Homo sapiens: one gene and its partners. The protein of the gene in region 2 interacts with the protein of the main gene of each other region in a pairwise test. Each region holds a gene or a part of one and is shown on either strand. Other genes may lie near its edges.

Region 1 (3,657 bases), on a different chromosome or scaffold from region 2:
CTTCATCGTCATTCCACTGATTGTCATGATTGCCTGCTACTCCGTGGTGTTCTGTGCAGCCCGGAGGCAGCATGCTCTGCTGTACAATGTCAAGAGACACAGCTTGGAAGTGCGAGTCAAGGACTGTGTGGAGAATGAGGATGAAGAGGGAGCAGAGAAGAAGGAGGAGTTCCAGGATGAGAGTGAGTTTCGCCGCCAGCATGAAGGTGAGGTCAAGGCCAAGGAGGGCAGAATGGAAGCCAAGGACGGCAGCCTGAAGGCCAAGGAAGGAAGCACGGGGACCAGTGAGAGTAGTGTAGAGGCCAGGGGCAGCGAGGAGGTCAGAGAGAGCAGCACGGTGGCCAGCGACGGCAGCATGGAGGGTAAGGAAGGCAGCACCAAAGTTGAGGAGAACAGCATGAAGGCAGACAAGGGTCGCACAGAGGTCAACCAGTGCAGCATTGACTTGGGTGAAGATGACATGGAGTTTGGTGAAGACGACATCAATTTCAGTGAGGATGACGTCGAGGCAGTGAACATCCCGGAGAGCCTCCCACCCAGTCGTCGTAACAGCAACAGCAACCCTCCTCTGCCCAGGTGCTACCAGTGCAAAGCTGCTAAAGTGATCTTCATCATCATTTTCTCCTATGTGCTATCCCTGGGGCCCTACTGCTTTTTAGCAGTCCTGGCCGTGTGGGTGGATGTCGAAACCCAGGTACCCCAGTGGGTGATCACCATAATCATCTGGCTTTTCTTCCTGCAGTGCTGCATCCACCCCTATGTCTATGGCTACATGCACAAGACCATTAAGAAGGAAATCCAGGACATGCTGAAGAAGTTCTTCTGCAAGGAAAAGCCCCCGAAAGAAGATAGCCACCCAGACCTGCCCGGAACAGAGGGTGGGACTGAAGGCAAGATTGTCCCTTCCTACGATTCTGCTACTTTTCCTTGAAGTTAGTTCTAAGGCAAACCTTGAACTGTCCATAACACGAGAAACAAGAGGAGATTTCTTTTCAATGGACCCACAATTCATTAATGCCAAACCATACCATTTCAGGCAAAGGTGTTGCACACACATGCTCTTCACCACAAGGTAGATAAATATATAGAAGAGGCAGGAACTGGGGTCTTTCCGTAAAAGCATGGACTTGAGGATTCTGACTGAAATTTTCCCCCCAAAGATTATTAGGCTCTACATTTCTTAAAGCAACAAGGGCTATCCATTTTGGACTTGTAGTTGGTATTCTATCTTTTCCAGAGCTACAACATGCCAACTTTAGCTCTGAAGGAAAGGGAAGATGATGCTTGTGAACTTAAGGACTTTTCGGCCCTCGGGTCGGGAGCTCATGGGCCAGAGCTACAGCTTGTGTTCAACTGAAAGAAAGGCAATGGACCAAATCATTCATGGAGCCCAAGAAACAGAACCTAATGGACTGATCAACATATGAGCCAAATTCTGAACTGAACAGCCCCACAGTCGGGTGCAAAGACTGTTACACAAACTAAAACAAAGGGCCTCCTACAGTTAGAATCTCAAGAAGGTTTCTAGATCCCCTAAAGGGATCCAGAAAAGTAGAAGGACATGTATGAAATGGGAAGCTAGTCCAAGGGAAAAGATTGAGAAATAACACACATCTGGAGAGCTAAACAGTTGACTTTTTTTCCTATAAAATCTTGGGTTTATGCATGGGCTGGAACTGAGGTCATTAAGTGTAAATTGTCAATTGACACAAATATTTTCTGTCTCCTGTTTGAATAATAGTGGGGCAGAAATCATGCCACTATTTTACAACTTCCCTTATGTGACTGAATTGAGATGCTGGTGGGAATTCTTCAGATCTCTGCCAACACTTCTGTTTTCTTTTGGTTTGTTTTTGTCAAATAAGCCTTTTTTAGTCAAACAGTATTTACAGAAAAAAAGAAATTCAACTAGAAGTGGCCTAAGTCCTACAAAATTCATGATGTCACTGAGGAATAATTTGTTCATCAGAAATATATTTTGTGTCCATGAGATCATAGACAATAAATGTGATCTCCACATGGGGAGCAAGGAAGGCAGAATGAACATTTTTCTTCCTCCAGGCACACCCATGTGTCTTTTCCACCTGTGGCTCTCTTTAAAGCTTTTAAGCTCTCTGCAGATGTGAAAGAGAAATATCAGAGAGTCAGAAATGACAAAGAGGATGATTTCACAATACCTAGAAAACATGTAACCTATTCCAAACAGTCCTAAAATCAGAGCATTCAGATCAGACATATCCTAATTAATGCTGTTGAAATAAATCACGTTGGGAAAACTTTAACAATATCTAAATTATCCCTAGGGTCAATTCACAGGAACATTCCTCAAATCCCAAACCGCAAAATAACTTTGGGCAGGGATATACATATACATTTCTGAGGGCATGGGCCGTATGTATGTGACCAAGTAACATGGAACCAAAAAAACAGTCAAGCCAGTGTTTTTGATCCTCCTACAGAACAAGTTAAAGCAACTCCAGAGTCAACCAACTGTTCATGCAGAAATCCACTGTCAATATGGGTGGAGGGAGTGTTTGGTTGAAAATGGTTAATCAGGTAGTTGTATGATGTAAGATGACCATCTTCAGAGTTTAGCCTCATTCTTGTGTGATTGTCATGCCTTTATTAGAACTCAAGTTTCATTTAAATAAATGCCCAGCTCATTTATTTTTTTTTATCTCTTCCTCCTCACAGATTTCAACATGAACTTCTCAAGGGGTAAACAGCAATGTATTTGGACTGTGAATAACTCTGCATGGGAATTTGGGATTGCCATGTTCAGAATTTAGGAAAGTAGAGGGAATAGAACCAAATAATATAGAGCTGACCCATCCAATAAAAATACCATGATAACCTTATTAATTCCAACTCCATTAATTTGGAACTTGTAGTTATTCAGACAAGGCATGGGGGCTAAAGTTTACCCTTACACTATCATTTATTTTTCTACCAAAATGCATAAAGTGAATTAACAGTCATAAATTTGTTCTACCAATTTATTGCCAAACTCTTGAACTGACCTTTCCTTAAAGGATATCTGGGTGAAGAAATGGCCTATGTGATCAATCCTCCTACAGGGGAGGGGCAGTGCCTTCAGGTCTGTTCAAATTGTCAAAGGAGTTCAAGGTAGCTATAGCCTATCCTTTGAGTAGAAATGCTTACTTGGGTAGGAAACAGGATTTCAAACATAAATGTCTCCAAACATTGTGTTAAAACTGAACTTCTTGTTTTATTTTTAAAGCTCACCCCCTTCAAAGTGTATCAGAGAAAATTGTTTGCCAAAATCTCAAATCAAAATGGAACCAGAACCTGTACAAGTATGGTAAGTCCATTTAACAGCACACACAACATTCTCAAGGGCACTGAGATTCCCTTTCCTTTTTGAAGTTCCTCTTTTCCCTATTTTAGTCATTGTCCATTATTTTGGTAAATTGGATTCCTCAAAAGTGAAGACCTTTTGAAACTATGAGCCTGGAAAAGAGGACCTTTTAATTAAGAGCATTCTGCTTTGATGACATTTTCTTCTAAATGAACAATAAGGCCTATGGTTAGCTTGGAGATAGCAAGTACTCGAAATTTTTTGCTATTTTGAATAAAGCACTATCAACTTAATGAGGTTTTACTGCACATACTGTTTTGTCATTTGAAAATCTGAAA
Region 2 (3,657 bases):
AAAGAAAAAAGCATGTGGAGATTGGAACCCTTGTGCACTCTTGGTGGGACTATAAAATGGTGCAGCTGCTATGAAAAACAGTACGGTGGTTCCTCAAAAAATTAAAAATAAAACTACCACATGATCCAGCAATCCCACTTCTGGATATTTATCCAAAAGAATAGAAAGCAAGGTCTTGAAGATATATTAATATGCCCATGTTCATAGTAGCACTATATGTAATAACCAAGAGGTGGAAGCAACCCAAATGTCCATCAAGGAATGAATGGATAAACAAAATATGCAAAGTGTGGTACATATATACCATGGAATATTTCTCAGCCTTAAAAAGGAAGGAAATCCTGTCATATGCCACAACATGGATGAACCTTGAGGACATTACTCTAGTCATAAAAAACACTGTATGATAAAACACTCAGATAAAAAACACTTATCTGAGGTATCCAAAGTAGTCAAATTCTTTTTTTTTTTTTTTTTTTTCTTGAGACACGGTCTCACTCTGTGGCCCAGGCTGGAGTGCAGTGGTGCAATCATGGCTTCGGGCTCCAGCCATCCTCCCATCTCAGTCTCTCGGGTAGTTGGGACTAGAGGCATGCACCACCACACCTGGCTAATTTTTGTATTTTTTGTAGAGACAGGGGTTTCACTATATTGCCCAGGCTGGTCTCGAACTCCTGGGCTCAAAGGATCCTCTCGCCTCGACCTCCCAAAGTGTGGGGACTACAGGTATGAGGCACCGAGCCCAGCCTAAGTAGTCAAATTCATAGAGGCGGAAAGAAGAATGGTGGAAGCAAGGCGCTGGGGGAGCAGGGAAAAGAGTGAGTGTTTAATAGGTACAGAGCTTCAGCTGGGGAAGATGAGGAGTTCTGGAGATCTGTTGTACAATGAGGTGAATATACGTAGTACTATTGAACAGCACACTTAAAAAAGGGTTAAGATGGTAAATTTTATGTTACACATTTTTTACCACAATAACCAAAAAGATAAGCAAGGCTATCAGAGGGGGTGGGGCTAGGGCTTGAGACCAGGAGAGGCTGGGCGCTGGGTGGCCCTATAAGGCAAGAACCTCTCTTTTCCTGTCGGAGCTCTCCCTGTGTGAATGGGGTGGGAGGCCTCACAGGATCCTGGGGAAGGACTCATTTCACTGGGGCTGGAGCATACGCTTGCCTGAGCTTCTGGTCTGGCCAAGACCTGGGACTCTCCTTAGGGAAGCCCCACCGTAGGGACTAACAATGGGGAAGAGACTGCCCCCCATCTCAACAACAGTTACTGGGCTTCCAGGCAGCCAAAGGATGAGCCAGCCCTCTCCAAACACTGAAGGGAAGTGAATCCCTTCCCACCCTAAGACCCCCCAGAGAGAAGGCAGCCCCAGTGAGCCCCATCTGCCCTGGAGCAACTTGGGGACTGTTACTCTTGGACACGGCTGGTACATACCACTGAGGCTCCAGCTCCCTGCAGTCTGGCCTTGCTCTGCTTCGCCTCCTGCTTCCTCCCAAACCAGCTCCAGAGAGGGGAAAAATCCCCCTCTTCTCCCCTCCCTTGCGGGCTTTCAAAGCTCCTCTCAGAGCACAGCCTCAGAGCTCATCTTCACCCCAAAACACCAGCTCCACCCTGCTTCCAAGCTGCCAGCTCCATGAAAATCTGACTTCTACAGGTAGGTGTATGTAATGTACATGTACTCATAGAAAGAAAAAGCCCACAAGAAGACTCCACATGTATGCAAGCAATGTTTTCTGAGCTGTTTGTAATGAATATTGCTTGCTTTTATTATTATTTAAGAAAAATGTATAAAGCTCAGCTAAGTTCCTCTGGTTGCTACCATAAGCACCCCAAATCTCTCTACCTCCCAGCACAATGCACCCTCTCCTTATAGCTACAGGAGGATCTACAAAGTACGGAGTGTTAGGAGCAGTGGGATAAGAGACAGACAGGCAAGGAGAGGGAGCAGTCACAGTAACAGCCCCTATGCAAAAGTCTTCCCGACTCTTACAGAATATAGCCTGGAACCTCAAACGACCTGACCCCAGGCCAGCAAAGCCCCGAGTTGGCACTTGGGTCAGAGAAGCCAATTCCTACACACATACTTTCTTCACCCACAAACCCTCTCAAAGCTGCAGCTCAGGCAGAAAGCCTCTGACACATGGGCATGCATAGGACTCTGGAAAGAGATGCTGGAGGCTGGAGATGTGGAGCCAGCCCAGGAATCAAGGTGGCCTTAAGGTTAGGAGTAGACAGGATGGGCAGGGGCAGACAGTGAGTAGCTCTTCTTCCTCCTTTGGCCAAATTCAGCCCCATCCTGTTCATCCAGGCTAGGAGTATCTGCCCCTGAAGTCACACCCGTCTGCCAAGCAGCCACCCACGCCTTCCTGCTCTGATGGGGATGAAAAAGGGCATGTTCCAGGAAGTGCTGCCCTGCTTGGAGGTGAGGGGAGCATCTAGATTTTAACTACTTCTCAGAAATGCAGCTCCTCATCTCTTTCCTTCTCTAACCTTGGTGTGAGGGGCTCATGGATCCCTGGTATTCTGCAGGTGAGGGAATAGACTGCCTCCCCCATAGCCAAAATGAATCCTGAGGCACAGCAATCACCTTAAGTCTCGATCCTCAGTGGTCCTGCCAGTACCTCTTCCTTGCCCTTCCAATGCGCCTCTTCCATCCTTCACCTACTCCAATCCAAGCTCATACACTGACCCTGACCTGCCTTCAAGGGTTCTGGCCTGAGCCACCTCAGGAGGGTAGCAGCAGGGAAGAAAGTCAGAGCCAGGAATCAAGACATTAAGAAGACTTAAATTCCCAGATACAAGCTTTAGGCTCCAGGCTGGGGAGAATCTGGGCTCCTGTGGGAGAAGCTGGGCTGGAGCTGATCTTTTAGGGTAAGGACTGGGTCAGATGAGATTACAGTAACCCCAGGCTTCACCTGTCTGAGGCTTTTCCAAAAGGCATCCTCTAGGTGTCCAGGAAAGGGCTTTAGGGCAACACCTGGATATACGGTGCAGGACAAAGCAGGAGCAAAGCAAATGGGTCCCTGACAGCAGGCAGGGGACAGAGATGGGAAAAGCAGAAGGGGTGGTCAAGTGAAGCAGATAAGAGTGTCCCGCCCAGGGATGCTGCGGCCACAGGAGCAGGCCAGGCACAGGAGGAATACTTCCTTCCCACTCTACTTCCCCAAGGCCACGCTTGCCATGCACTTTCATCGTTGTAGACTTCTGTATACACAGCAGGATCTACTTTGTTCAAGATCCTTAGCAGGTGAGTAGTGAGTTAAAATAAGGACCTGTCTTAACCTAGCTGGGAATTAAAGTGCAGATGGGCACACTACTTCCTGTCACCCCATCCCTCACAAAGGCTGACAGATAAAGGGAGTGAGACATCCGGAGCAGCCTAGGACCAAACTGGGCAGATGGGCACAAGGCTCCTGCAGTGAGGAGGCTCCCATATCCCAACCCCCTTCAGAAGCCAACACCAGGCCCCAGCCTGCTTCCCTTCCAGATGCTGCAGGAACTTTCAGCCATGGTTGGGAAGTTAGAGCAGATGGAGGTCCATTTATCCTTTTCCTACTTTGGGCCAGCACCAGCCCCTTATTTCACTGCAGATGCTGCTGTGCACATTTACGGGAGGGCAGATAAGAGGAGGCAGAAATGACCCTTCTAGGAAGAGAG
Region 3 (2,820 bases), on a different chromosome or scaffold from region 2:
AAATGCTCAGAGTATTACCTTTCAAAATAAAATTGAACCTCAAGACAGACCAGAGAACAGAGTGCCTTCCTCAAAGTGCACTTTAACACCAATTTTAAAAAAAAAAAAAAAAAAAAAAAAAAACAGGACATTCAAACCCACTTTATAACACATTTCATTATAACTCTCAACATTAGTATATTCTTCCTAAGTACCTACCCAAATCCTTCAACTGTCCCTTCATGTCCATGAATTGAAGTCCCCTTCAAAACCTTTCTAGACCCTAGGGACTGTGATTTACACCCTAGGAGAAATACACAACTTTCCCTATTGGAATTTGTTACATTATACTAGCAAGCAAATGCCGATTCTCTCTCCCTTTGCAATTAGCTAAGATGTAATTAGGTTGCCAAGCAGCCAACACGAAACAAGTACAGGCTGACCATACACTAGAACCATTTTAGAAGCTTTGGTTCAAAGCTACAGTAGAGTTGTGAGAAAGAATCTACTCTGATGCTTATCTGAGAGGAACGCAAGAGATTTGCTGCCCTCTTACAAAAAGTGCACAGAAGTTTCTAGACCAACCAAATTCCCAGATTTGAGGTTTTAGTACCAGAAAGACCTGAAGTGACCTCAAAGGACAATACTCTATGGATCTTTAGCTCTCAAGACTTGAAAAGAACTTTCCTCACAGTGTATCTCAGAAGACCCCAGTGGAAACACTAAATCAAAGCAACGTATTTCTTTGGACCTAATGGCCCCAAGAAGCTATTCTCAGGGGGGAGGAATCTGTCAAGTTTTTATACTTTTCATTCCTGCACCTGATGGGAGAACAACTCTGTATAGAGAACTCTCCCATCTGTATAGAAAGGTGCAGGAATCAAAGCTATCTTCAAATTTGCATCACCGCCTACACCACGGACAAGAAGAGGTAGATCAATTGGGGGTTGGAGGGAAGAACTGGAAACTCTCTTGGTTAGACTTTCTCGAAGATCTTTCCTGCCTGCCTCCTCATTCCCTGAATGCAACACAGACCTTGCATACATAAACTCATCTCCTGTTGTTTTACTGTATAACGAAGTTAGAAGTGAAGTGATGATGAAGACACAATAGTCTAATTCATTAGGACTTTTACTACTAGTACTACCATTAGGGAGACTGAGGGGAAAGTGAGTTTAAAGAGTAAACCATGGGAGAGACGACAGAGATGGAAAATATATACTTAGCACACTCTAGGGCTGAGTTGGTATTTTTGTACTTTCCAGATTAAACAAGCTTCATTGTTCACTCCTCTTGTTCTCTCTCTACACCTGTAACCCTTTTTAACTTTACAGATAAAACAAAAATGATCTACACAGCTGCCACAACTGAAGAAACAATTCCAGGAGCTCTGGGAAATGGCACCTACAAAGGGGAGGACTGCTCCCCTTGCACAGCCTAGCCCTTCCCCTGGTGGCCTGGATTCTGGTCCCAAAGCAATTCTGAAAGCCAGTGTGGTAAACTAGAGAGAGCAGCAAAAACACCAGTCTTGCCTGAGTCTTTCTCCAGCATTTCCAGTACATCTATCAGAATCATCAAGTCTTGGCCGGGAACACAGACAGGGTGTCTACCCAAGAAGCCTCACCTATCCCCAACTTAGAATTTGCTACTTATTTTAAAGACTTGTTCAGTGACTGTAAACTCTATGAAACCAGAAACCGAATCTGCCTCTTGCTGGGATCTCTAAAAGTGTCTGATAAGCATCTTAAAGTCACTCAATTCCTGAACTAATCAATATATATGTTTAACCCATTACTCAAATACCCAAATCCCATTCCAAGTTTTGTGACCCAAAAGAGAAATAAATGCTCACAAGTGCTGTAGAATTAAACTTCAGAAGTTCTAACCTAAAAAGTTCAGATCCTATTCCTTCCCTTTTGACATTATTGGGATGATGCTCCCGAAAAGTCAAATTTGACATCAAGTATGCAAAAGTGAACACAGTAAGATGCAATCAGGCAAAACAAACTCAAAAAATAGCTAATGAAATGAAAAAACTGGGCGAATGCATCATGTTAGTAGAGGAGGAAAACTTTTGACAAGGAAAAACCAGGAAACAAACACATACATTAACACAATGTTACCTCACTAATAATCTCTTTTTTAAGTTCAGTAGGTATTTGGTTTTAACACAAGGCGCCCCCAAAACTGGGTACAGCAAACTACTGCCAAAATGAGTCGTTTCCCAATTCAAAGAAAAATGTTCAAATACCTAGAATTCACAAATTTCAAATTGTCTCTAATAAAATTTAAACATTTTGCATATCATATGTAAATAAGGATCAAGTAAATGATTAACAACTAATATTAACAATTACAAAAAGTCAATCATGCTTATTAGTTACTTGGGATTTTTATCATTTTGTATGGTCAGGTACAAATGAAACCAAGACAATATAGTTTTCGGGTATCAGTTTGGCAAATGTGCAGGACTAACAAGTACTCCCAACACCAAAACGAGAAACACAGATTTGGGTTACTAACATCCTCTTAAAAACGCAGATTTTTGACAAGGCTACCACCTATCATTTTTACTTATTATATCCATATATACCTACCTGTTCAAATTGTTTTCTCTATTATCTAACCAACATCATCTGCTAGGAGACTTGGTTACATACAAGTTATGTAAGAACACATTTGTTTAGCTTTTGAGGAAGACAGGGTTGGCCTCAAACCATTCTTAGAAAGGAATAAAGATGGCCGGATGCAGTAGTTCACACCTGTAATCCCAGCACTTTGGGAGGCCGAGTCGGGCAGATCATGAGGTCAAGTGATTGAGACCATCCTGGCCAAAATGGT

The links.
Region 1: the proteins of SLC41A1 (region 2) and GPR101 interact in binary tests that used the Homo sapiens proteins (3 or more experiments, as listed by UniProt).
Region 3: the proteins of SLC41A1 (region 2) and SLC10A1 interact in binary tests that used the Homo sapiens proteins (3 or more experiments, as listed by UniProt).

The regions. Positions count from the first base shown.
Region 1 is NC_000023.11:137,027,422-137,031,078, reverse strand, and holds part of GPR101 (probable G-protein coupled receptor 101), read left to right. Parts: coding exon 1-931; 3' UTR 932-3,657. UniProt on the Homo sapiens protein: Orphan receptor.
Region 2 is NC_000001.11:205,803,173-205,806,829, forward strand, and holds part of SLC41A1 (solute carrier family 41 member 1), read right to left. Parts: intron 1-3,657. UniProt on the Homo sapiens protein: Na(+)/Mg(2+) ion exchanger that acts as a predominant Mg(2+) efflux system at the plasma membrane.
Region 3 is NC_000014.9:69,774,882-69,777,701, reverse strand, and holds the end of SLC10A1 (hepatic sodium/bile acid cotransporter), read left to right. Parts: intron 1-1,313; coding exon 1,314-1,420; 3' UTR 1,421-2,286; downstream 2,287-2,820. UniProt on the Homo sapiens protein: As a major transporter of conjugated bile salts from plasma into the hepatocyte, it plays a key role in the enterohepatic circulation of bile salts necessary for the solubilization and absorption of dietary fat and fat-soluble vitamins.